Linked DNA regions of Homo sapiens. The protein of the gene in region 2 purifies or fractionates together with the protein of the main gene of each other region. This does not show direct contact. Each region holds a gene or a part of one and is shown on either strand. Other genes may lie near its edges.

Region 1 (8,030 bases), on a different chromosome or scaffold from region 2:
TGCCTTAGCCTCCCAAAGTGCTGGGATTACAGGCGTGGGCCACCAAGCCTGGCCGTGAGAAGCATCTTAGTGCAGGTAATTTCCCCTGAAATTTGGATGGAATTCTGTGGAAGGAATTGCCTTCACTGGAATTAGATCCCAAGATAAGAACGTTGTAATGCTCTTCCAGAAAGGTGATGCCACCCTTCAGCACTTCCATACCCATGTGCCTGCGAGTGCAGGTAGACACACCGTGTGTACATTTGTACACGTACATCCCAACAGCACAGTATTCTTTCTAACACTGTATATCTCAGCTGGAGACTTTGGCTAATTTAATAGGTAGAAAGAGTTACCTTATTTCCTCTTCTTCTTTTTCCAGCTTTTTTTTCTGGGAACCAAAAAACAGTGTATTATGAGAGTTCAGACAAAGTCCAGAGCCAGAACAGATTCCCAAAGTCCACAAGGTCCCCGCTGAGCTCCTGGCCAGAACTAGCTGAGGTGGCCTTGGCCCATCCTGTACACTCATTCTGGGAGGCTGGCCCAGGCTCCCGGTGGCCCACCCCTCTTAAGTGCTTCTGTAGGGGTACCACTTCCTTCCAAACAGCCACGCTCCTTCCCCCACCTTAGCCACGCTCGCCTGCTTCTGGGGCACCAGCCTTTTGACTTGTTTGACAGGGCTTTGCTCCTCCAGAGATATATCTGCATCCTCATCCTCATCATCTTCCTCTTCCTCTTCCTCCTCCTCCCCTTCTTCTTCCTCCTCCTCCTCCCAGGTTAGGTCTGATGCTTCTGTAATAGCATGGGAAAGGATGCAGGGGCACAGCTTCAGAGCTACAGAATCAATGCCCACCTCCCATTCTGTGATCCGTGTTGCTCCAAGCACTGCCCTGGAGGAATCCTAGCCTGGAGTTGACAGTGGTTACCTGCCTGCCACCTGTACAGGGCGGCACCCTTTCTGGCCCTCCCAACAGTGGAGGCCAGGGTAGGGTAGGGGGTCTAGGAAAGCCCTGCAGAGGGCTGGGGTGGTAGAAAGAGGGCAGGGGAAGTGGCTCTGGCTGGGTAGGAGGGGGATTCATATTGGCAAGGGCTGGGGCCAAGGCTAAAGGTAGGCAGAGTAGGGGAGGAAGAGGAGGAGAGGGGGAAAGAATCTAAAACAAATAGCTAAAGAATTGAAACCTTATCCTAAGAGAAGTGGGACCTGCCAAGGCTTTTTAGCAGGAGAGTACCCTGATGAATGAGGCATAATCATACAGAAAAGAGGGCCAGTTGAAGGGACCTTGAAGGAGTCAGCATCATGCCGCGTTGCTATGGTCTGCGTTGCTATGGTCTGCGTTGCTATGGTCTGCATCACTGCAGCAGCCACATCCTGAACAGTGGTTCCCTAGTGCTGGGTATTACGCTGAGTGCTTTTCCTGAATATCCCATTTATTCTTCACAACTGCTCTTTGAAGTTTACAAGTGAGGGGCTGCAGCCTACAGAGGTCATGGCAGGTAAAGAAGAAGAACAGGGACCAGCGCCCTTGCCTTCCAGTCCAGGCTGCTGGCTGTCATGTTGCCTTTGGGGATTTTCTTCCAACATTCAAGAATCCCTCCAGTGTTTGAGTAGCTAGTATGTCCCGAGCCCCTGCCTAGCACGGTACTCACGGACCTTCCTGATCGCAGGCTCTGACTTACCATAACGTTCCTGGCCACTGAGGAACACGGGTCCTGAGCCAGCCCGGAGCTGGAAAGTAACTGGGGGAGAAAGCTGCACTCCTACCATGGAGACCTGCAGGGGGAGGAAGCAGAGAAGACAGGGCCACTTAGGCCTGGCACCTCTCGGGGACTAGCCTCAGGCAGAAATACTGAGTTGATTTCCCTCCCCAAACCCTACACACTACTCAGCCCCTGCTGAGGTGGATTCTGTCCAAGAATTTGAACCTGGTAATCCCATTCTTGCTAAGCTCACAGATGGGCTTCCAAGCTGAAGGGCAGCCGTCAGATAGAGGAATCTGATTAGTATGGGCTAAATTATGGCCATTCCCCCCATCCTCCAAATTCCTATGTTGAAGCCCTATCCTCCAGTGTGATAGTATTTAGAAATGCAGGCCTTGGGAGGTCATTAGGTTTGGGGTCATGAGGGCAGGACCCTCATGATAGAACTAGTACCTTTACAAAAAGAGACACTAGAGAACTCACTCTCTTTCTCTCCACTCTCCTGCCCCACACGTGAACACATAGCAAGAAGGCTGCCGTCTGCAACTCAGGGAGAGGACCCTTACCAGAACCCAACCATGCCGGCCCCCTGATCTCAGACCTCAAAGCCTCCAGAAGTGTGAGAAAACGTCTGTTGCTAAAGCCCTCCAGTCTGTGGTATTTTGTTATAGCAACTTGGGCAGACTGAGACACCGATCAAACGAGAAAGCAGATGCATGATTTTATGTACAGTGCTGCTTGCTTTCTTCACATCAGACAGGTGATGTGCCAACTCGTAACCAGGTTTGTGGGAGGCACACCTTACACACGAGCGTGAAACCCCAATCATCACACTTATAAATGACAAGAGCCTCTACAGTACTACTTTTGTCTTATGTATAATGTATGGATATACATAAGAATAAAGGTTTAAAATATATTAAAGTGCTAACCATAATTGTCAGTCGATAGTAAGGTATTTATTGTATTTATACTTTTCCAAACTTCCCAAATTTTCTCGAATGACAATGATAGCTTATTGTTTTGAGCTTCTGCCACGTGTCAGGCACCCTGCTAAGCATTTTATCTGCTTTATCTCATTAAATCCTCACAAGAAACCCATGATGTAAGTACTGATACTTTACAGAGGAGGAAACTGAGACTTAGAGTGAATAACTTACAGCTTCTAAACTCTAAGTTCAAACAGGAGGTAATAAGTGAAAACAAACTCTGCAGCCAGAGACACTTAGAAATGCCAGAGAGGATGTAATTCAGTGTTTCTACTGCATGGCTGAACAGTAAGACAGAAGAATCCTCGTACATAAAAAATGAAGAGAGGATGCCTTCTGATTAGTGATGAATGAAAAAAAGAAAAAAGAAATGAAGACAGGCAGGTGCAGGAGCTGGTGTGCTGCAACCGAGGGGAAATGGACCTGAAAACAGCCAGGACTTTTTGCTTCAAAACTCACACACAGGCCGAGCACGCACGGTGGCTCATGCCTGTAATCCAAGCACTTTGGGAGGCCAAGGCAGGCGGATAACTTGAGGTCAGGAGTTTGAGACCAGCCTGGGCAACATGGTGAAACCCTGTTTCTACTAAAAATACAAAAATTAGCCAGGTGTGATGGTGCACACCTGTAATCCCAGCTACTCAGGGGGCTGAGGCAGGAGAACTGCTTGAACCCAGGAAGCGGAGGCTGCAGTGAGCCGAGATTGCGCCACTGCGTGCCAGCCTGGGCGACAGAACAAGACTGTCTTTAAAAAACACAACAGAACAACAACAAAATCTTCACAGTCAGGAGACAAGGCCTTGGGCTCAGGCAAGGAGGAGAGTTGTAGCTGAGACCACCATGGGGAGGGTAGGACCCTCAAGGGCTATACCCTTAGTGAGAGGCCCAAGGTAAGTGTTGAGGATTAGAGACTCAAAAGCCCAAACCAGCCCTCTTCTCCTCAAAAATGAAAAACAAAAATCAAAACCCTAGCCACCATTAAAGGAAGCTAACAACAAAGCATGAATGGAAATAAAAGAAGTCTCCAGTGAGAGCCCATACCCCATAGCTGTACCTCTCACTTATGGGGTCTGAATTTACTCAGTGAGTACTGCCAAGCCAAGAAATGTACAGAAAATCCCAAGCTTATGATATTCCTGAGGTAAATGGCAGAAGCAAACACGAAACCACTCTGTTGGAACACTCCCCAAACTCAGGCCACATCGAATTCTTTTGGAAAAAAACAAAATAAACTAAAGATGAGCTCACCGTATAAAATTACAAAACATACAAGAAACAATCCAGCTAGAGTCAACAGAAAGAAATCAAGTGACTGCAGACTAGCCCGACCAAGAACTTAGAACACTGATCTAAAAAAATATCAGATAAAGCTGGGTGTGTTGGTGCACGCCTGTAGCCCAGGCTACTCGGGGGGGCTGAGGCCGGAAGATCGCTTGAACTCAGGAGTTCAAGGCTGCAGTGAGCTATGATTGCAACAATGCACTCCAGACTGGGCGACAGAGCAAGATCTTGTCTCTAAAATATGTATATACAGAAATATGTACATATATATATATATGTATATGTTTAAAACCAAGTAAATATAAAAGTAGGAATCATAATCATAAGAACAAGACATTATGAAAAGAAAAAGAACCAAATGCAGCTTTCTAGATATAAAACACCCAAAGCTGAGGATGGGCATGGTGGCTCACACCTATAATCCCAGCACTTTGAGAGGCTGAGGTGGGAGGAGTGCTTGAAGTCAGAAATTAGAAACCAGCCTGGATAACATAGTGAGACTCCAGCTCTACAAAAAAATAATAAACATTAGCTGGGCATGGTGGCTCATGCCTGTAGTCCCAGCTACTTAGGAGGCTGAGTGGGAGGATCACTTGAGCCCAGGAGTTTGAGGCTGCAGTGAGCCATGATCAGGCCACTGCACTCCAACCTAGGCAACAGAGCAAGACCTTGTCTTTAAAACAAAAATAAAAGAAAACCTGATCAAATGATTAAAAAGCAGAAAAAACCAGCAGAAGCAGAATTAGTATGATCAATAATGCTGTGAAGGAATTACCCAGTATAAGGCAGAGAGGGAGAGATTTAAAGAAACATTGGGGGAGCTAACACGGGGGACAGAGTGAGAAGGCCCAACATATATCTAATTGGAAAAGGGACTAGGGAGACTGGAAGACAGTCAATATTCAAAGGAAAAACAACCAATAATTTTCCAGAATTGATCAAAGACATAGATCCTCATGTCTGAAAACCTAAGTCCTGAACAGACAAAAAAAATAAATCTACACCTGAACACATCATGGTAAAACTATAGAAAATAAAAACAAAAGACATTATCTTAAAATAAGCCAGAGAGGAAAGACATCTCCAAAAAGGGAATAATCAGACAGATTGAGGACTTCAACAGCAACATTGGGAACCAGAATAGAACAGCTTCAAAGCTGAAGGAAACTCTCTATCTAGAATTATATACACAGCCAAACCATCATGAAGGAATGAGGGCAAAATCATGATATTTCCAGACAAAGCCTGAATAAGTTTACTATTCTCAGGCTTACTAAAGTATGTTGCTAAAAAGGATAAGAAATTAGATCAAGAAGGAAGAAGTGGGTGCTAGAAGCAGTGGTAACCAAACTAATTGGTAAACAAAGTAAACCTACATAAGAATTAACTGGAAAATACAATAGTACTAGTAATGAGTAGTGTTGAGTAGGCTGACAAGTTGGAGCTAGAACACTTGATAATAATATTGAAGTTAAAAAGATGAGAATCAGGCCAGGTGCGGTAGCTCACACCTATAATTCCAGCACTTTGGGAGGCCAAGGCAGGAGGATCACCTGAGCTCAGGAGTTCAAGACCAGCCTGGCCAACGTGGTGAATCCCTGTCTCTACTAAAAATACAAAAATTAGCTGGGCATGATGGTGCATACCTGTAATCCCAGCTACTTGGGAGGCTGAGGCAGGAGAATCACTTGAATCACCTGGGAAGCAGAGGTTGCAGTGAGTCAAGATTGCACCACTGCACTCTAGCCTGGGAAACAAAGTGAGACTCCATTTCGAAAATAAAAAAATAAAAAAAGGAGAATCAGAAAAGCTCCTTGGATTGTCTGGGAGGACATAAAACATTAATTCTAAACTTTGAGTAATGTATGATTGTTAAAAAAATTAAAGATAAACAGTAAAAAAATTAGAATGAGATTCTATAACTTCCAAACCAGTAGAGAAGGGGAAAAGGAACTTTAATTAATCTAATAAAATATAGGAAAAGGAGAAGAAAATAAAAAAGCAAGGAAAGTAGGGGTACAAAGTACATGCCACAAATCCAATTACATCAGCAATCACAATGAATACAGACTATACTGGCCAGATAGAACAAAATCTAGCTACATACTGTGTAAAAGATACATACCTGGAACATAAGACATAAAACACACCTGAAACAGAGAGGTTGCTGAGGCCAGAACACAAAGGCTTCGAAGCAGGCCATAATACACTCTCGGCTCTTATTCCAAATGAGAGAGAGCCATGACCTAACTATTCTAGCAGAGAAGCCACATGATCTAACCTGTGTTTAAAAGGATCTTTTTGGCTGGGCATAGTGGCTCACGCCTATAATCTCAGCACTTTGGGAGGCTGAGGCAGGTGGATCACTTGAAGTCAGAAGTTCAAGACCAGCCTGGCCAACATGGTGAAACCCCGTCTCTACTAAAAATTACAAAAAAAAAAAAAAATCAGCTGGGCATGGTGGGGAGCGCCTGTTGTCCCGGCTACTAAGGAGGTGGAGGTTGCAGTGAGCCGAGATTAAGCCACTGCATTCCAGCCCTGGTATCAAAGCAAGATTCTGTCTCAAAAAAAAAAAAAAAAAAAAAAAAAAATCTTTTTGGCAGCTGTGTGGAGCACAGACCAGGAAACTTTCTGTTAAGAGCCAGAAGGTAATATTTTAGGTTTGCAAACCATATGGTCTCCATGGAGACTACTCAAATCTGCTGTTAGGGAGGAAAAGCAGCCATGGACAGGGTACAAACGAATGAGTGTGGCTGTGTTCCCAGTAAAACTACTTACAAAACCAGGCAGCAGCCTAGATTCAAGCCCTCTAGTTTGCCTACCCTGGAATAGACTACAGGGGACCATGTGATGGTAGGTAGACCAGGTGGAAGGCTGTGCAATTAAAATGGAGCCACAGGCAACTGTCACCTGTACCAGGGGTAGCAGGGAAGATGATGAGATGTGGTCCATTGGGGTATAAGATGGGGGCAGAGACAACAGGACTGCTGGTAGATCAGATATGGGTGTGGGAAAAAAGAGGATTTGGCTGGGTGTGGTGGCTCATGCCTGTAAATCCAGCACTTTGGGAGGCCAAGGCGGGTATATCACCTGAGGTCAGGAGTTCGAGACCAGCCTGACCAACATGGCAAAAACCCATCTCTACTAAAATTACAAAAATTAGCCTGGCGTAGTGGAACATGCCTGTAATCCCAGCTACTTGGGAGGCTGAGATGGGAGAATCACTCGAACATGGGATGCGGAGGTTGCAGTGAGCCGAGAGCGCACCATTGCACTCCAGCCTGGGTGATAAGAGTGAAACTCCATCTCAGGGGAAAAAAAAAAAAAAAGAGCTTTGTCTTGGCTAACTGGAAAAACAGCTGTTTTCTGAGAGAAAATCAGGTTGAAGGGGAGGCGGGTGGATTAGAGATAAAAATTGAATATGTGGATTTAGACATGTTAAATTTGGGATATTTATTAGATATCTATCAAAGCCATTTAGTTGGATATAGGACTTGGAGCTCAAGAGAGGTTGAGTTTACAGAAATAAGTTCCTGAGTCTTCATTTGTTTAGATGGTCTTGAAAACCACAGGAAAGGATGAGATCGCCTGCAAAGTATGTGTAAATAGAACAGGAAAGTCTGAGGGCAGTTTGACAGAGGGGTCTCCCAAACCTCCAAGGACAGCTGATCCTAGTCTTCCATTCACTGTTCCAGGGAATAGGAGAGAACCCTCCACCCTCAGTGCATGAGGCTAGCATGTCCTGAACACCTAAATACTATCACTTATAGGCCAACCTCACATGTATACAGGTAAAAAAAAGGGCTCAATATATGAGTAAAACAAATCTAGAATTTGTAACATGACCAGTAGTATTTATCCCAGGATGGCAAAGGAACTCAGATATTATTATCTTCATATAATTTACCACGTGGACTAAAGAACCTAGAATCATATGAATAGAAAAGCATTTGGTAAAATTTAACCCCCTCTAGTGATTTCAAAGCAAAGCAATTTTTTAAAAGCAGAGGGTTTTAGATGGGGACTTCCTTAACCTGACAAAATGTACTTACCAAATGCTTCTTTTTTAAAAAACAAGAAGGA
Region 2 (8,122 bases):
TGGTACTAAACCATTCATGAGGGATATGCCCCCATGATCTGACACTTCCAACATCAGACCCCACCTCCAACACTGGGGATTACATTTCAACATGAGATTTGGAGAGGACAAACATGCAAACTATATCAACTACTCAGCCAAAAAAAAAAAAAAAAAAAAAAACTACTAAACTATGCAACAACATGGATGAATCTCAATCTCAAAAAAAAAGAACAAACTACTAAAATATGCAACAACATGGATGAATCTCAATCTCTCTCTCTCGCTATATATATATATATATATTCATTCAAATATGTGGGTGTGTATATATATGTATATACACATATATACATATATACACACACACATGCCTATTTGAATGAAAGAAGTCAGACAAAAAGGAATATATATTGTGTGATTCCATTTATATGAACACCAAGAATAGGCAATATTAACCTCTAGTCATATAAATTAGAAAGTAGTAGTCTCTCTGTGTGTGGGCTAGGGGAGGATGGAGAGGCATGAGGGTAGTTTTGGTGAACTGACAAGCTACAGACAGATACAAATAAACACTTTGGACTGACATAAATGTTCTAAATTTTGTTTTAGGTATTATTTTCATGAGTGCATATAATTATATAATTGGCAAAAGTCATACTCTGAACATTTAATACATATGTACTTTATTGAATATAAATTATACAACCATTTAAAAGTGGCCTATAATCCTCAGGAATTAAGTAGTCACTGAAGGCATACCTTTGTTGGGAATGGCAGGAATGAAGAATACAAAGATTGTGGGGTGATTTTTCTATTTATGACTGTACTAGGATGCTTAAAGAAAAATGTGATAAGCTCAGAGGCCCAGAGAACTTCTATGATTACCTTAAAACTTTATTAATTGCTGGGATGACACATCCAAATCAAGTATTAATGCTGTGAAGAGCTAAATTACAAGGTAAGTTGAATAAACAGACTCCTCAGGTCTCTTATGTAAGAAATTAAGGCATTGATTGGGAAGGAGTTGGATCTTTAGAGTTGTGATAGAGAGGTTGGGTGAATTCGGATAGCTCTATTATCTTAATACGCAGACACTACAGAGCTTTTTGCTTTCTGAAGAACTCCTCCCTTCCTATCTATAGGGCTGGTCTTGTACTCCTTGAAAATTCTGAAGTAACTTAATCTGAGGAATTTACCTTGTGAATCAATTGAGAAGAACTGATTGTTCTCAGAACTCAACTGTTATCAGTTCTTTATACCTCTAGACTACATCACCTAGTAGAAATATAATGTGAGCCACATACGTAATTTAAAATCTTCTACTAGCTACTCTTAAAATAGTGAAAAAGAAATAGTTGTGGTTAAATTTTGGTAATATATTTTATTTAACTCAACATAAACAAAATATCATTTCTGGTGGCATTGGTGGTATAGTGGTGAGTATAGCTGCCTTCCAAAATATCATTTCGACATAATCAGTATGAAAATCAAGATATTTTATGTTCTTTTTCATATGCAAAATGTGTGTATTTTGCATTTACAACATGTCTCAATTCAGAATCATCACATTTCAAATGTTTGAAATAGCTATAGGTGGCTGGTGGCCTTTGTATTCTCCATATTGGACCGGGGTTTCTTAATGTCAGCACTGTTGACATTTTGTTGTGGAGGATGTCCCGTGCATTGCAGATGTTTAACAGCATCTCTAGCCTCTACTCACTAGATGCCAGTAGGACACTTGCCCTTCCTCTTTGGCTGTGGCAAAAAAAATGTCAAGAACCACTGGTCTAGATCTAAAGTTAGATCCCAACATGTTCCAGGGTATAATAAAAGATCTGACCTGGGAGAAGGGTTTCATACCAAAAAAGTGCAAGATTTTGCTTATTTATATTGGCAGAAGACTATAGAAAATGATAATGAATTCCAAGTGTGGCAGACCAGGGATGAAGGAATATTTTTGATGAGACCAAGATATTAATATGAATACATTTACCAGAGACCATAATTCACTGTTCTTGCTTTGAACATCTAGGAGTGGCTGTCAAGGTTTGCTCAGTTGGTTGATTGAAACTAAATAAAGTTGAGATGTTAGAAATCTCTTGATTTTAGAGGATTGAATTAAAAGACTTAGGGAAAGGGGTAACGAAGAGAGGTTGATTAATGAGTGCAGACATACAGTTAGATAGAAGAAATAAGACCCAGTGTTTGACAGATAAGTAGGGTGACTATAGTTAACTATAATCTATTGTATATTTCAAAATAACTAGAAGAGAACAATTTGAATGTTCATAGCATAAAGATAAATATTTAAGGTGATGGATATCCTGACTATCTTGATTTGATCTTTACACATTACACATTCATATAAATGTATCCAATTATCACATGTACCCTGAAAATATGTACATCTAGTATGTATCAATTTTTAAAGAAGACTTAGGGAATAGTACTGTATGAATGGATTTATCATATGTTACCCAGTCATCTCCTTTCAAAGGTGTTCTGAGAGGGCCAAAGGACCTTCTTTTTACTAAAGCATTGAGAAAATATAGGGAATGCCAGAATCCTTTAAAAGCTCTGTAGCTGCTATTCTATAAGCCTGGGGATAAAGATGCTGCCATTGCATGAAATCCCTAATTCCCTAATGGAAATAGTAAGATCCCAAAGTGATAGAGGCCAAGTGATACCACTGAGCCATCAGAGATGAGATATCTGTTGATACCATGATACCAGCAGGGTGTATCATATTGTTTGACTAAGGGGGATCTTTAGGAGTTGATAATTAATCACTGCCCCTATAATTGAAATGGATAGTCTGCTAAGATTCTACTTAATTTGTACAGCAAAAAATTTACCAGAACTAATGAAGAGACCTGAATGTCATAACCTTAAAGGAGATTTACAGCATCTTGACATTGGCTTTTTGACTCATGGCTATTATAATAGGAAGACAAAGTGGAAGCCTTTGGAACTGCCCTTATCTACTAAAAGATTAAACCAAAGGCAATACCATAGTCCTAGGGGAATTCCAGTGATTAGTGGCACTATTAAAGAGTGCAAAGATGTAAAGGTGGTGATTCTCCATCACACTTTCATTTAACCTTCTGTTTGTCCTCTGCAAACAGGTTATCTAAAATGTTGCTTTTTAATTTTGAAGTATTATTTGTATTCAAGTATCTTTATTCTATTTCATTGCCTGCTATTTTTACATTCTAGTCCCCATTTGTTGCCATGAAGATAGAAATCACAATTTCTACCCAACACTGTAGTGTTGCATCCTGCACACAAACGTACTTTAGTGAGCTCATATGTTTATGTTTATGTATCATCTATGGCTTTTCTTGGTAAGACAATGGCAGAGTTAAATAGTATCACAGAGACCATATGACCTGCAAAACCTATTAATAAAATATTATCTGGCTGTATGAGCACATTTTCATACTGCTATAAAGAATTGCCTGAGACTGGGTAATTTATAAAGGAAAGGGGTTTAATTGACTCACAGTTCAGCGTCGCTGGGGAGGCCTCAGGAAACTTACAATCATGACGGAAGGTGAAGGGGAAGCAGGACACCTTCTTCGTTAAGGAGAAGTGCCCAGTGGAGGGGAAAGAGCCCCTTACAAAACCATCAGATAGCTTGAGAACTCACTAGCATGGGGGTAAACGGCCCCCATGATTCCATTACCTTCATCTGGTCTCTCTCTTGACACGTGGGGATTATGGAACTGCCCCCATGATTCAATTACCTTCACCTGGTTTCTCTCTTGACACGTGGGGATTATGGGGATTACAATTCAAGATGGGATGTGGTCGGGGACTCAGAGCCTAACCATATCACTGGCCCTTTACTAAAAAATTTACTAATTCTGTCTCCCGCTTTAAATTATGAAAGGGACAATTACAGTACTGGTGGAAAAACATTGCTGGAGTGCTTTAGTGAAACCAATTATTTAGGTAGCAGCATGCCACGGTTATGGCTTAGTTGACAGTTACTCTACTTGTGAACTTCATAGGTTGGTGTACGATTCTTAACATGAATATTAAGTAGAGGCATTGAATGAAGATATTTTTCCAATTAAAATCTTGCTTTGCTTCTTCAGGACTTTATAAACCAGACCAGCTGGCTGTGGCACAGATACGAAAGACTTTGAGACCCTGAAGGCACCTTGCAGAACATCCTCAGGCTTCCTCATTTAACAGGAAAAAACCTGAGGCCCAGGGAGGCATCTCAGCTAAAAATACTACTATACATTTAAAAGGAGGTTTCTTCCGGTCGCAGTTGCCTTCACGTTTTCAAATCTTCTCTTTAAAAAGCAAAAGCAGGGCACAACCAGGCCAAGCGCCAGAAAACTCGGAATTGGCTTTATTTCCTTTTTTTCTAGTTGGGCTCGGTTATGATTTTCGGTAACGTACACAAATGCTGTCCTTGTCCATAAACAAACGCTTAAAAAAAAATGTTTACCCGAGAAACAAGGATAGACACGAAGCTGCCCTCCCTGCCCCGTTCCTCACCCTCTCCAATAGCTATAGGCGCTGCCCGCCGTCCCTAACCCGGACCAATCGGCAGCCTGCTGCGGGCCTGACGGGAGGGGTGGGGCCGCCGTTGCCAGAGAAGCCACTAGCCGGTTACTAGCTGCGCTTTTGTTCCACTTGAGCGGGCACTCTTCTGCGGCAAGCAGGTCTAGGAATTCGCCTGGTTCCCACCTCGCGTCCCTTGCCTTCCTTCCTAGTCTACCCACTGTAGTGCCCCCTGCGTCCCGCTCCCTCCTAGCCGACTCAGAGCACAAGAAGGATTGCCACGGTTTCCATTGCAGCAGCCGTGGCGCCTCTGACCCTTTTTTTATATCGCGGCGACGGCGGGCTGTCGTCACGACGACGTGCGGACGCAGCGGCGGGGGCGTAAGTACGCCTTTTGGGTTGGGGGCGACTTTGTGGGGAGCCTAGCTGCTGCTGGGCGTTTACCGCGGGAGCCCTTAGCGGTCTGGAGGTGAGGGCAGTGGTGGGTCCCGGAAGTAAAAGGCCCTCGCGCCCACCCAGCCCCCTCCGCGCAAACCCTCCACCTCCCTCAGGCTGACTACCTGGCCTGGGAAAAGGGCGGCGAGACTCACTCTTAGGAAGGGTGTGGTCCCCGGGACATCAGGGCAAATGTTAGCGTGAGGTGGGCTTGTGCAGAACGAAGTCCTGACCGGGCCGTTCCTGGATATGGTTGCATTTCTTTCAGAAATAGTGACCTCTTAATCATTGGGCTGGTTTTTAATCGCCCATCATGTGATATATCAGATTGTAGGAAGCCCTGGGGGCTTCGTAAGTGAGGTATATTACAGGAATCCTCAGGAAATAATTCCTTCTCCAGGATTCCTCTAGGTTCCAGCCCCTATAGGCGACCCCTGTAGTGCGGGATTGACCTAGGGTCGTGGAGAGTGCTAAAGGCCGACTTGTGTTCAGTCCCAGCTCTGCCACTGAACCCGCTGTGTGGCCTTGTCTAGGTCACTGAACCTTCCTGGATTCCTTACTGATAACTGTAACAGTAATCATCACTTTGGGGTGGTTGTAATACGAGATTAAGTAAACGCAGGGCCATTAAGGTGGCACCGAATGTAGGTGGTTAGTGAGTGGTGGTGCTTGTTGTTTACTGAGAATAACCATACTGGGGCTGCTGTTGGGGATAAAATCTATTTCGAAGACAGTTTCCTCATCACGCAACGCATAGTACGGTTTCAAGTGTTTTTGAATGAATGAGGTTCTTGGAGTTTTAAGTGCAACTGAGTTAAGGTTAAAGAAACAAACCGGGCCGGGCGCGGTGGCTCACGCCTGTAATCCCAGCACTTTGGGAGGCCGAGGCGGGCGGATCACGAGGTTAGGAGATCGAGACCATCCTGGCCAACACGGTGAAACCCCGTCTCTACTAAAACAAATACAAAAAGTTATCCGGGCGTGGTGGCGGGCGCCCGTAGTCCCAGCTACTCGGGAGGCTGAGGCAGGAGAATGGCGTGAACCCAGGAGGCGGAGCTTGCCGTGAGCCGAGATCGCGCCACTGCACTCCAGCCTGGGCGACAGCGCGAGACTCTGTCTCAAAAAAAAAAAAAAAAAAGGAAAAAGAAACAAACTGCAGAAAACCTGTCTGCTTTTGAAATTAGTTTGATATTCTGCTTATAGTAAGAATGTCATGATCATGTTTATGATTTGCTTTTTGCTTCTCTTTTTCATCTTCTTATTTCACAATGGATGTGTATTTATAGTGTAGTTTTTCTATCCCAAAAGTTCCTTGTGACAAACTTTAGAACAATGGAATTTAGTGATCTGGTCGCGGTCTGCTCTCTCTCTTTAGAATTGTAGTCTGTGCTTTTAGCTAGCTCATTCATCACTCATTTCCTTGTCCAGAACAGTTTTCATCTTTTGAATCTAAATTGAACTTATGAGTATTAAAACCTGACTGAATAAAGGCAAGTTTGTGTGTTACTTTTTGCTTTGTAGATTTTTATATTTATGTTTTAGTATCTCATGGCTTTTTTTTTTTTTTGAGATGGAGTCTCGCTCTGCCGCAGTGGAGTGCAGTGGCGCGATCTCGGCTCACTGCAACGTCCGCCTCCCGGGTTCAAGTGATTCTCCTGCCTCAGCCTCTCGAGTAGCTGGGACTACAGGTGCCCACCACCACGCCTAGCTAATTTTTGTATTTTTAGTAGAGATGCGGTTTCACCATCTCATGGCTTTTAATTCAAAACTGAGTTCCACCAATTCCTTACTTGTAATCTTGGACAAGCTATTTAACCCTTCTAAGATTTAATTTACTTATTTATAGCTTTTTAATAACAACCTTGTGAAGCTTTTGTGAGATGATGTTTATAAGGTCAGTCAGTGCTCTGCTCAGTAAATGGCAACAGCTGTCGTGTTGAAGGAAAGGAATATGCTTTATGTTTGTCTGGTACAGGATGGTGACTTTATTTGGGATTAGACAATATTCTGAACATCTTTGGCCAGGTCTTTTTCCGGGTAATTGGGCTCTATATGGACACTCAAAAGTGTCCGAGTTTAAACAGTAAATAATTTAGTCACCCTAACTTATATTTGAGAACCTAATCTATGCTCCCCACTGTGTTAGGTAATTTTTTAGGGCAGAGAGTGATGCGTATTATTTGTCCTCACAGTTAATAGCAAGTTTAAAAGAGAACTAAAATATGAGCATTTATGGAGCAGTTAAATTCTAAACTATATGATTCTGAAAATACTTTTGTTTAGAGTTCTTGATGGGCTGGAGAAATCAGGGCAACACTTTGAGAAGGAAATGGAATGTTGGCTTTGAAGTACATGCCGTGTTTACAGAACAGTCACTCTTGCTGTCAACTCTTCTTCCTATATTATCCAGTCTGCAGCCCATCTTTTAAATATACATCCTTCTTTTTTCATTGGAGAGAGGGATTACTAATTTGTTATCTAATCTAATCTCTCTGTATCAGAAAACGTTTTTTCCATTTTGGTAGCTTTTACGCATAAGATTTATTTTCCAGCTTTTTGCCTGTTTCCAAGATTCCTATCCTTTTTTTTTTTTTCATACAATTACCTCTCTAGTAAACGTTTGACTAGTGTCCAGAATAGTAGGGGGAAAAAAAGAGGATTCCTGTATCTACTTTGTGTTCCTTGCTGAATATGCCATGGTGACTTTTTTCAGTAGAAGCTGTGTTTGAAGCCAGTGGAAGTTAGTTTTCTAAGAATTTGTGTTTGGCAAAACAAAATGTGCAGGTTTCATATGCTATTCTCTTCAGAGATATTGTTTTAAAATACATATTCATCTGAAGTTAGTTAATTTACTTAGTCTGATCTAGGTGTTAAGGAAGGTCATGGACCATGATTTTCCTTTTTCTCTGACCATGGCTAGCATCATGGTCCCTGAGCAGTTATCCCCAAATGCTTGCTGTTGGCCACAGTGGAACATAGTTTAGTGAATGTAGCTGGATCAGCATAGCCTACAAGCACTCCTGGAAAAAGCTTTAAGTACATGTCCTCTTGGCAGTAGACTGGCAAAATTGTCTCTGTATAGGAAATTTAAATCTTTAAACATTTTAAAATATTTTAAAATTGCTCATCTTTAAGGATTTTTAAATGGTTTTTTAAAATTTTTTATTTCCATAGGTTTTTGGGGAAC
Region 3 (8,347 bases), on a different chromosome or scaffold from region 2:
CTTATGATAGCTAGGTAAGAAATGTTGCTAGGCAATGCAAAATATACAACAACACGTAACAAAAAGTATATTCCTCTGGTAGGAAATGTCAAAAGTTGAGAGGTAACTGTTTTGTTTTGTTTTATTTTGTTTTGTTTTGTTTTTTTTTTTTGAGACAGAGTTTCGGAGTTTCGCTCTTGTTGCCCAGGCTGGAGTGCAATGATGCAATATTGGCTCACGGCAACCTCCACCTCCCAGGTTCAAGCAATTCTCCTGCCTCAGCTTCCCGAGCAGCTGGCATTACAAACATGCACCACCACGCCTGGCTAATTTTATATTTTTAGAAACGGGGTTTCTCCATGTTGGTCAGGCTGGTCTCAAACTCCTGACCTCAGGTGATCTGCCTGCCTCAGCCTCCCAAAGTGCTGGGATTACAGGCGTGAGCCACCGCGCCTGGCCATAACTGGTTTTATGACCATAAAAGATCTGTTCCTCTACTAAACTACCTCCATTCACAGGCAGAACAGTGTACATGGTACTTAGAGAGTGGACTCTCGAGCCAATCTGTTTTGATTTAAATCCCAGCTTCCCCACTTTCTACTGTGTAATTTTGGCAAGTTGCTCTAAATCTCTGTTTCTTCATCTATAAAATGAAAATAATTCAAAGCACTGCTGTGAGGATGAAATCAGTTCGTATGTGTAAAACACTCAAAATAGTGCCCACACACAGTAAGCTCTCAAGAACAATGAACTTGCTGACAATCTGCCTACTTGCTGGCCAATTGGTCAGTATGTCTTGATTACTCTATGGATCTAATCAAAGACAATGAAGTCACACCCAACTACATCTTTCTCTTTATCACAAACATGTCCTGAATGCCTTAGCCTGTTTTCATGTTCCCTCTGAATCATTCTGTCACTACCCTTAGTTCAGGTACCATTTAAGTCTTCCTTTGACTACCATAGAGTCAGGATGCTTGAGGGACATATGCACTGGGATGTTCCACCAACATCTCAAATGCATGTGTTCAAAATTGAACATCACCTTTCTCCTCCAAGCTGGCTCTTCCCTCTATATTCCCAGTCTCAGTCACAGACAATATGATCTACACAATCAATCAAGTAAGCCCAAAATCTAGGAATCATCTCCAGAGGAGCCTGCCTCCTCTTTCCTAACTGGTTAATGCCTGCTTATCCTTCAGGACAGCTCAGACATCATCTCCTGTGGGAAGCTGAGCCTGGGTACTCCTTCTCTGGGCTTTATAGCACCCTGGATATCTCTCTATCACAGCACTTACCACCTTATAATACAATTGTCTGTGTCTGTCTCCACAGCTTGGCTGTAAGCCCCTTAAAGCCAGGAACTATCATTCATCTCTGTATCCAGCACCCAACACAGCACATGGGACCTAAAGAACCCTCAACTAAGCTTATAGGGGCTGAAATAAAACTTAGAGACAGAGGTCGTGCTATGTTGCCCAGGCAGCCTCTAATTCCTGGACTTGAGTAATCCTCCTGCCTCAGCCCCCTTCGTAGCTGGGATTACTGGCATGTACAACCATGCCTCGCATCATCTTTCTGAAGTACAAATCTAATTACATCGCCCACCTGTTTAGAAAAACCTTTAGTCTCCCCCATTGCCTACTGTTAAAAAAAAAAAAAAATTCAAACTCTTTTTAGATTTCCCACAACCTCCCCTCAACCTACCTACCAGTCTCACAGCTCACCATGCCTTTACCTACCTTGAGGGAACCACATGAACTAACATTACCTCTACAGGCAATCTTCTCTGTCCTCAAAGAGAACCAGTCACCCCTTCTGTGCTACTACATCTATTGTGAGAGTTATAATAGATGAGTCTTTTTCTGTAAGTCTTACCCTCACCTTCCAGGACTGATCAACGTGAAGATCAAGACTAAACCTCACTCCTTCTTTACATCCCTCTCTCCTACAGGTTATGTAGCACAATCCTTAGTATACAGTACTTAGTCAATAAATGTTTGCTGTATGAAGAAATCAGTGGCAGATATGTCATCTCTACAAAAACAGTTAAGTATAGGTTCCATTCATAGGTCAATAGCTTCATTTTTTCACACAGATGAAAGAACAGAATGTTGTTCTAACAAAGACAAGTAAAATGTAGAAGCAACAGAAACTCAAAACCTCCTAGTTTTAAGATTAAAAAATACAAATCTCAAACCTTGTAGATAAAGAATGTCATTCAATAAAGAATGTCATTCAATAAAGAATGTCATTCAATTAATAAATAATGTATAATATTAAGCATCTACACCACGTGAAAGCACAAACCAAGCCAGGCACTGTGGTGATATAACAAATGAATCACAACTTCTGCCCTCCAGGCACTCATGTATGATGGCAAAAGGCACCACTTAGGGTGGCCAGGCAGTTGTTTGGGCAAGAGGAGGCAAGAATTTAAATTAGAAGGCAACGGTGGGAGTGTAAAGCAGGAATATTTAGCCTCAGCTGGACTGAGAGTATGTGATATCACAGAAGTGGATTCTTGACCTTTCAAGCCCGCACTACTGAGAGAAGAGCAAGGTGGATTGGCAGAGGATGCACTTAAAGTGGATTGACAAAACGTCGTATCTTCCTTATCCTGCTTCCAAATAAGCCTCTAAGAAAGGTGGCAGCATGATGTGGTGGAAAAAGCATCAGGCTAGGATCTGAGCCATCTGAGTTTCCATCAAGGCACTACCATTTGTGATATCCTCCACCCTGCCCCGAACCAATCATACAACAAAGCCTTGGCCTTCACTCATTTATCCCACAGGTAATCTCTGAACACCTTTCTTATGCAGGCACCACACTAAGCACTGGGGGTACAGATGTGTCGTGAAGAAATAATATCCCTGCTCTAATGGAGCTTGTAGCCTAATAGGGAAGTCAGACTTTACTCATAAACTGTCCATTCCAATCATGACATACAGTATAGTAGTAAGAGAATGGACTCAGACCCAGAATACGTGGGTTCAAACCCTGGCTCTGCTACTACCAGCTGTGTCACCAAAGGCAAGTTTTACTTAACCTGTGTCTTTTCTCATCTGTCAACTTGGTGTAACAACAGTTAATATTCAACAGTGATTGATATGATATATGTAAAGTAGCAGAAGAGTGGTAAGCGCTATCTGGGTGTTTGCAATGCATACCTACCGCTATTACTGATCATTCCCAGTAACGCATTCAGCCACCTGAGTCCATACTCACCGCTTGCTCATTCCTCATCCCGATGTACTTGATGCCTAGCTGCTGGGCAGCAATGGCGATTTCGGTCACTGGGATGCCTACGATGCCAAATATGTACTCCACATCCTGAGGAACGAAGAACAGGGGAGTAAACTCCCAAGGCCCCACCATATCGCCACATCCTTCCCTCCCTCCCGGGCGCTAAAAGGAAAACCCCCCGACCCCCATCGCCCATTTCTACTCGTCTCCAAGACAACATCGCGGTCCCCGCCAGCTTCCGTAGGAGCCTTTCATTCCAGGAAGGTCCATCGTACTTGCGTTTTCAGGGCCTGAGCGATGACTTTAGCACCAGACACCTGCTCCTCGCTGCGCTCTGCGAAGTTACTGTCCGGCATCTTCCACCGAAAAGCTCTAAGCACTCACGCAGCCGGCAAACAAGCGGAATCATCCAGCAAGGCAAACGCGAAATCGGCAGCACGCCACCTCTGGTACTGCACCTCTGACGGACAGGAGGGCAACCAACTGCCTTAAACAACGGGAAGGAAGAGGCGGTCTAAATTCGTCCACTTCCCGGGAGAGGTGAGAATGTAAACACGCGCGTTCTCCAATCAGAACTGCGCTCTCTTCTCGGCTCCTCCATTCGCGCGCCAGAATGCCAGAGGGAGGCGGGACTAGCAGGAGATTGCTGCCTATGCAAAGCAGGTAAGAAGCCGAACTCTGAGGCCTCTCGCCATTGTCTCCGAGTCGGCCAGCTGGAGCGTTTTCGGGGCTGTAAAGGGAGAATGGCGCATGCGCATATTCAGGGCGGAAGGCGCGCTAAGAGCAGGTACGGAGGGGGCGTGGTGCGGCGCGGAGGGGGTGTGGTAAGGGCGTGCGGTCCAGACCCCGCCCCGGGCGCCCAGTTGGACTTGGGGAGGGCTGCGCAAAGGCTGCCGGGAGCTGGGAAGCCCGGCGCGCGTCGTTTGCTGGGGCTGTTTGTGCGTTGCTGCTGTGCTACCGCGTTGCGTTTTCTAGGCATTTACTTACACGCTTTGTGGTTTACGCTCTCATAACCTTGTGGTTTTATAGTCCTTAAATTATTGTAGCGCACGTTACTTAAATCCAGAAGCAGATGTGTACCCCAGCAAGAGATAAAATGACGCTCAGAGTCAGTAGATCCAGACCGTGCCTGAGATCCTGAATCCTGTTTCCTACCCACTATTCAGCCATTGGGTCACAAGCGATGAAAAGAGCACCTTGAAGGTAGTATAGAGCACTGTTTTCTCCAGCCCTTGCTACTAATCCATATTACTCTCCGCTAATATCTTTCCAAAATTAGGAACTATGGCGTTTCATAATTCTTAGGTTGGGTCCCTACCTACAACCAGCCCTGCACCCGATAGCCTTTTAAAACATTTTTGTGTGAAAATCGTTTGCAATGTGCAATATCTGAAACTACTGCCTTGGAGTCATTAGACCCTCTGCTCAGTGACAATAAACATAAAATTTCCAATTGTAATAAACAGTGGAACTTTTAATTTTTTGAGGATTTGGAGTCATTTTAAGCAAAAAGAACAGTGATAAGTGGACAGTAAAGAGATGAGAGGGGAGTGGGTCATGGGTAGTGAAATGAGTGAGAAGCACTGGAAGTGAAACGATTTCTAAACCCAGACATTTTCAAACTGTAGTCCTGGGTCTTTTCAAAAGGTCTTCCCCTCTTTTTCTCAACCCCTCAACCCCACCCCAAGCAGAGGAGAGTGAAGTGGTTGCCTCCCTGCATATGTGGACGGTGTTAGTCCATTTTCATACTGCTATAAAGAAATACCCAAAACTGGGTAATTTATAAAGAAAAAGAGGTTTAATGGTCTCACAGTTCCAAATGGCTACGGAGGCCTCACAATCATGGCAGAAGGTGAAGGAGGAGCAAAGGCATGTCTTACATGGTGGCAGGCAAGAGAGCGTGTGCAGGGGAACTGCCCTTTATAAAACCATCAGATCTCATGAGACTTACTATCATTAGAACAGCATGGGAAAAATCCCCTCCCCATGATTCAGTTACTTCCCACTGGGTCCCTCTCACCACATGTGGGGATTATGGGAGCTATAATTCAAGATGAGATTTGGATGAGGACACAGCCAAACTGTTCTGCCCCTGGCCCCTCCCAAATATCATATCCTCACATTTCAAAACCAATCATGCCTTCCCAACAGTCCCCCAAAGTCTTAACTCATTTCAGCATTAACTCGAAAGTCCACAGTCCAGAGTTTCATCTGAGACAAGGCAAGTCCCTTCCGCCTATGAGCCTGTAAAATCAAAAGCAAGCTAGTGGCTGGGCGCAGTGGCTCACACCTGTAATCCCAGCACTTTGGGAGGCCGAGGCGGGCGGATCATGAGGTCAAGAGATGGAGACCATCCTGGTCAACACGGTGAAACCCTATCTCTACTAAAAATACAAAAAATTAGGCGGGCATGGTGGCAGGCGCCTGTAATCCCAGCTACTCAGGAGGCTGAGGCAGGAGAATGGTGTGAACCCGGGAGGCAGAGCTTGCAGTGAGCTGAGATTGGGCCACTGCACTCCAGCCTGGGGGACAGATCGAGACTCCGTCTCAAAAAAAATAATAAAATTAAATTTAAAAATAAATAAATAAAAGCAAGATAGTTACTTCCTAGATACAATGGGTGCACGGGAGTGAGGTAAATATACCCGTTCCAAATGGGAGAAATTGGTCAAGACAAAGGGGCTAAAGCCCCCATGCAAGTTCAAAATCTGGCAGGGCAGTCAAATATTAAAGCTCCAAAATGATCTTTGGATCATTTTGACTTCGTATCTCACAGCCAGATCATGCTGATGCAAGAGGTGGGCTCCCACAGCCTTGGGCAGCTCTGCCCTTGTGGTTTTACAGGCTACAACCCCCTCTCCCAGCTGCTTTCACAGGCTAATATTGAGTGTGTGCAGCTTTTCTAGGCACATGGTGCAAGTGGTCAGTAGATCTACCATTCTGGGGTCTGGAGGACGGTGGCCCTCTTCTCACAGTTCCACCAGCAGTGCCCCAGGAGGGACTCTGTATGGGGGCTCCCACCCCACATTTCCCTTCCACACTGCCCTAGCAGAGGTTCTCTATGAGGGCTCTACCCCTGCAACAAGCTTCTGCCTGGACATCCAGGCATTTCCATACATCCTCTGAAATCTAGGCAGAGGTTCCCAAACCTCAATTTTTGACTTCTGTGCACCTGCAGGCTCAACACCATGTGGAAGCTGCCAAGGCTTCAGGCTTGCACTGTCTGAAGCCAGGCCTGAGCTGTACATTGGCCCTTTTTAGCCATGGCTGGCATGGCTGGGATGCAGGACACCAAGTCCCTAGGCTGCAAACAGCAGGGGGACCCTGGACCTGACCCATGAAACCATTTTTCCTCCTAGGTTTCTGGGCCTGTGATGGGAGGGCCTGTTGTGAAGGTCTCTGACATGCCCTGGAGACATTTTCCCCATTGTCTTGGTGATTAATAGTTAGCTTCTTATTACCTATGCAAATTTCTGCTGCCAGCTTGAATTTCTCCCTAGAAAATGGGTTTTTATTTTCTACTGCATCGTCAGTCTGCAGATTTTTCAAATTTGTATGCTCTGCTTCCTCTGGAACACTTTGCCATTTAGAAATTTCTTCTGCCAGATACCCTAAATCATCTCTCTCAAGTTCAAAGTTCCACAGATCTCTAGGACAGGGGCAAAATGCCACTAGTCTCTTTGCATAGCAAGAGTGACCTTTACTCCAACTCTGAATAAGTTCCTCATCTCCATCAGAAACCACTTCAGCCTGAATTTTATTGTCCATATCACTATCAGCATTTTGGTCAAAGCCATTCAATAAGTCTCTAGGAGGTTCCAAACTTTCCCACATTTTCCTGTCTTCTGAGCCCTCCAAGTCTCTAGGAAGTTCCAGACTTTCCCACATTTTCCTATCTTCTTCTGAGCCCTCCAAACTGTTCCAACTTCTGCCAGTTACCCAGTTCCAAAGTTATTTCCACAGTTTCGGCTGTCTTTACAGTAGTGCCCCACTCTCTGCATTACCAATTTTCTGTGTTAGTCCCTTTTCATACTGCTATGAAGAAATACTCAAAACTGGGTAATTTATAAAGAAAAAGAGGTTTAATAGATTCACAGTTCCACATGGCTGGAGAGACGTCACAATCATGGTGGAAGATGAAGGAGGAGCAAAGGCACGTCTTACATGGCGACAGGCAAGAGAGTGTGTGCAGGGAAACTCCCATTTATAAAACCATCACAGCTTGAGACTTATTTGCTATCACAAGAACAGCATGGGAAAAACCCTCCCCAATGATTCAGTTACCTCCCACCAGGTACCGCTCATGATATGTAGGGATTATGGGAGCTATAATTCAAGATGAGATTTGAGTGGGGACATAACCAAACCATATCAGGGACCCATCTCAGAGGGTGACTTCTTTCAAGTCTCAGAGTGTATCTAAAAAGAAAATGCAGATTTTGTATTATACTCTAGAATGTATCCATATTTTAATTTTAAAATGACATTTATTGAGATATAATAAAGATACAATTCAATGTCCAGATTTTAAATGTTAGATGAGTTTTGACAGTTATATATATATATATCTATGAAATCACCACCCAAAATAAAAATGACATTTTAAACTGCTTACCTGTCAAGTAAAATTGACATTCCAGAAAGATGTGAAACGGGCTGGGCACAATGGCTCATGCCTGTAATCCCAGCACTTTGGGAGGCCGAGGTGGGCAGATCATCTGAGGTCAGGAGTTCGAGGCCAGCCTGGCCAATGTGGTGAAACCCCATCTCTGCTAAAATACAAAAATTATCCAGGTGTGGTGGCACATGCCTGTAATCCCAGCTATTCGGGAGACTGAGGTGGGAGAATCGTGTGAGCCAGGGAGGTAGATGTTGCAGTAAACCAAGATTGCACCACTGTACTCTAGCCTGGGTGACAGAGCGAGACCCTGTCTCAAAAAAAAAAAAAAAAAAAAAAAAGATGTGAAATCATCTTTGCACTTTGAGTAGTCCTTGACACAATGCCTCCTGTCCTTGTTGAAGAAGTACAGACTTCCCCTTCCATCATGTATTATTTATATCAGTACCTTTTGTGACAGTCTCTGCCCCTGTTGCATTAGAGTCACTTGGAAAGCTTTTTCCA

The links.
Region 1: the proteins of ODF2L (region 2) and NPM2 purify together in Homo sapiens (affinity purification with mass spectrometry; 2 studies listed by BioGRID and IntAct, with this or other methods). This does not show direct contact.
Region 3: the proteins of ODF2L (region 2) and HACL1 purify together in Homo sapiens (affinity purification with mass spectrometry; 2 studies listed by BioGRID and IntAct, with this or other methods). This does not show direct contact.

What each region holds. Positions count from the first base shown.
Region 1 is NC_000008.11:22,026,850-22,034,879, reverse strand, and holds part of NPM2 (nucleoplasmin-2), read right to left. Parts: intron 2,531-8,030; exon of another isoform or gene 2,428-2,530; intron 1,751-2,427; coding exon 1,657-1,750; intron 772-1,656; coding exon 605-771; intron 371-604; coding exon 336-370; coding exon of another isoform or gene 332-335; exon of another isoform or gene 1-331. UniProt on the Homo sapiens protein: Core histones chaperone involved in chromatin reprogramming, specially during fertilization and early embryonic development. Probably involved in sperm DNA decondensation during fertilization.
Region 2 is NC_000001.11:86,392,792-86,400,913, reverse strand, and holds the start of ODF2L (protein BCAP), read left to right. Parts: upstream 1-4,590; 5' UTR 4,591-4,881; exon of another isoform or gene 4,882-4,969; intron 4,970-8,122. UniProt on the Homo sapiens protein: Acts as a suppressor of ciliogenesis, specifically, the initiation of ciliogenesis.
Region 3 is NC_000003.12:15,597,883-15,606,229, forward strand, and holds the start of HACL1 (2-hydroxyacyl-CoA lyase 1), read right to left. Parts: upstream 3,688-8,347; 5' UTR 3,582-3,687; coding exon 3,501-3,581; exon of another isoform or gene 3,479-3,500; intron 3,313-3,478; coding exon 3,208-3,312; intron 1-3,207. UniProt on the Homo sapiens protein: Peroxisomal 2-OH acyl-CoA lyase involved in the cleavage (C1 removal) reaction in the fatty acid alpha-oxydation in a thiamine pyrophosphate (TPP)-dependent manner.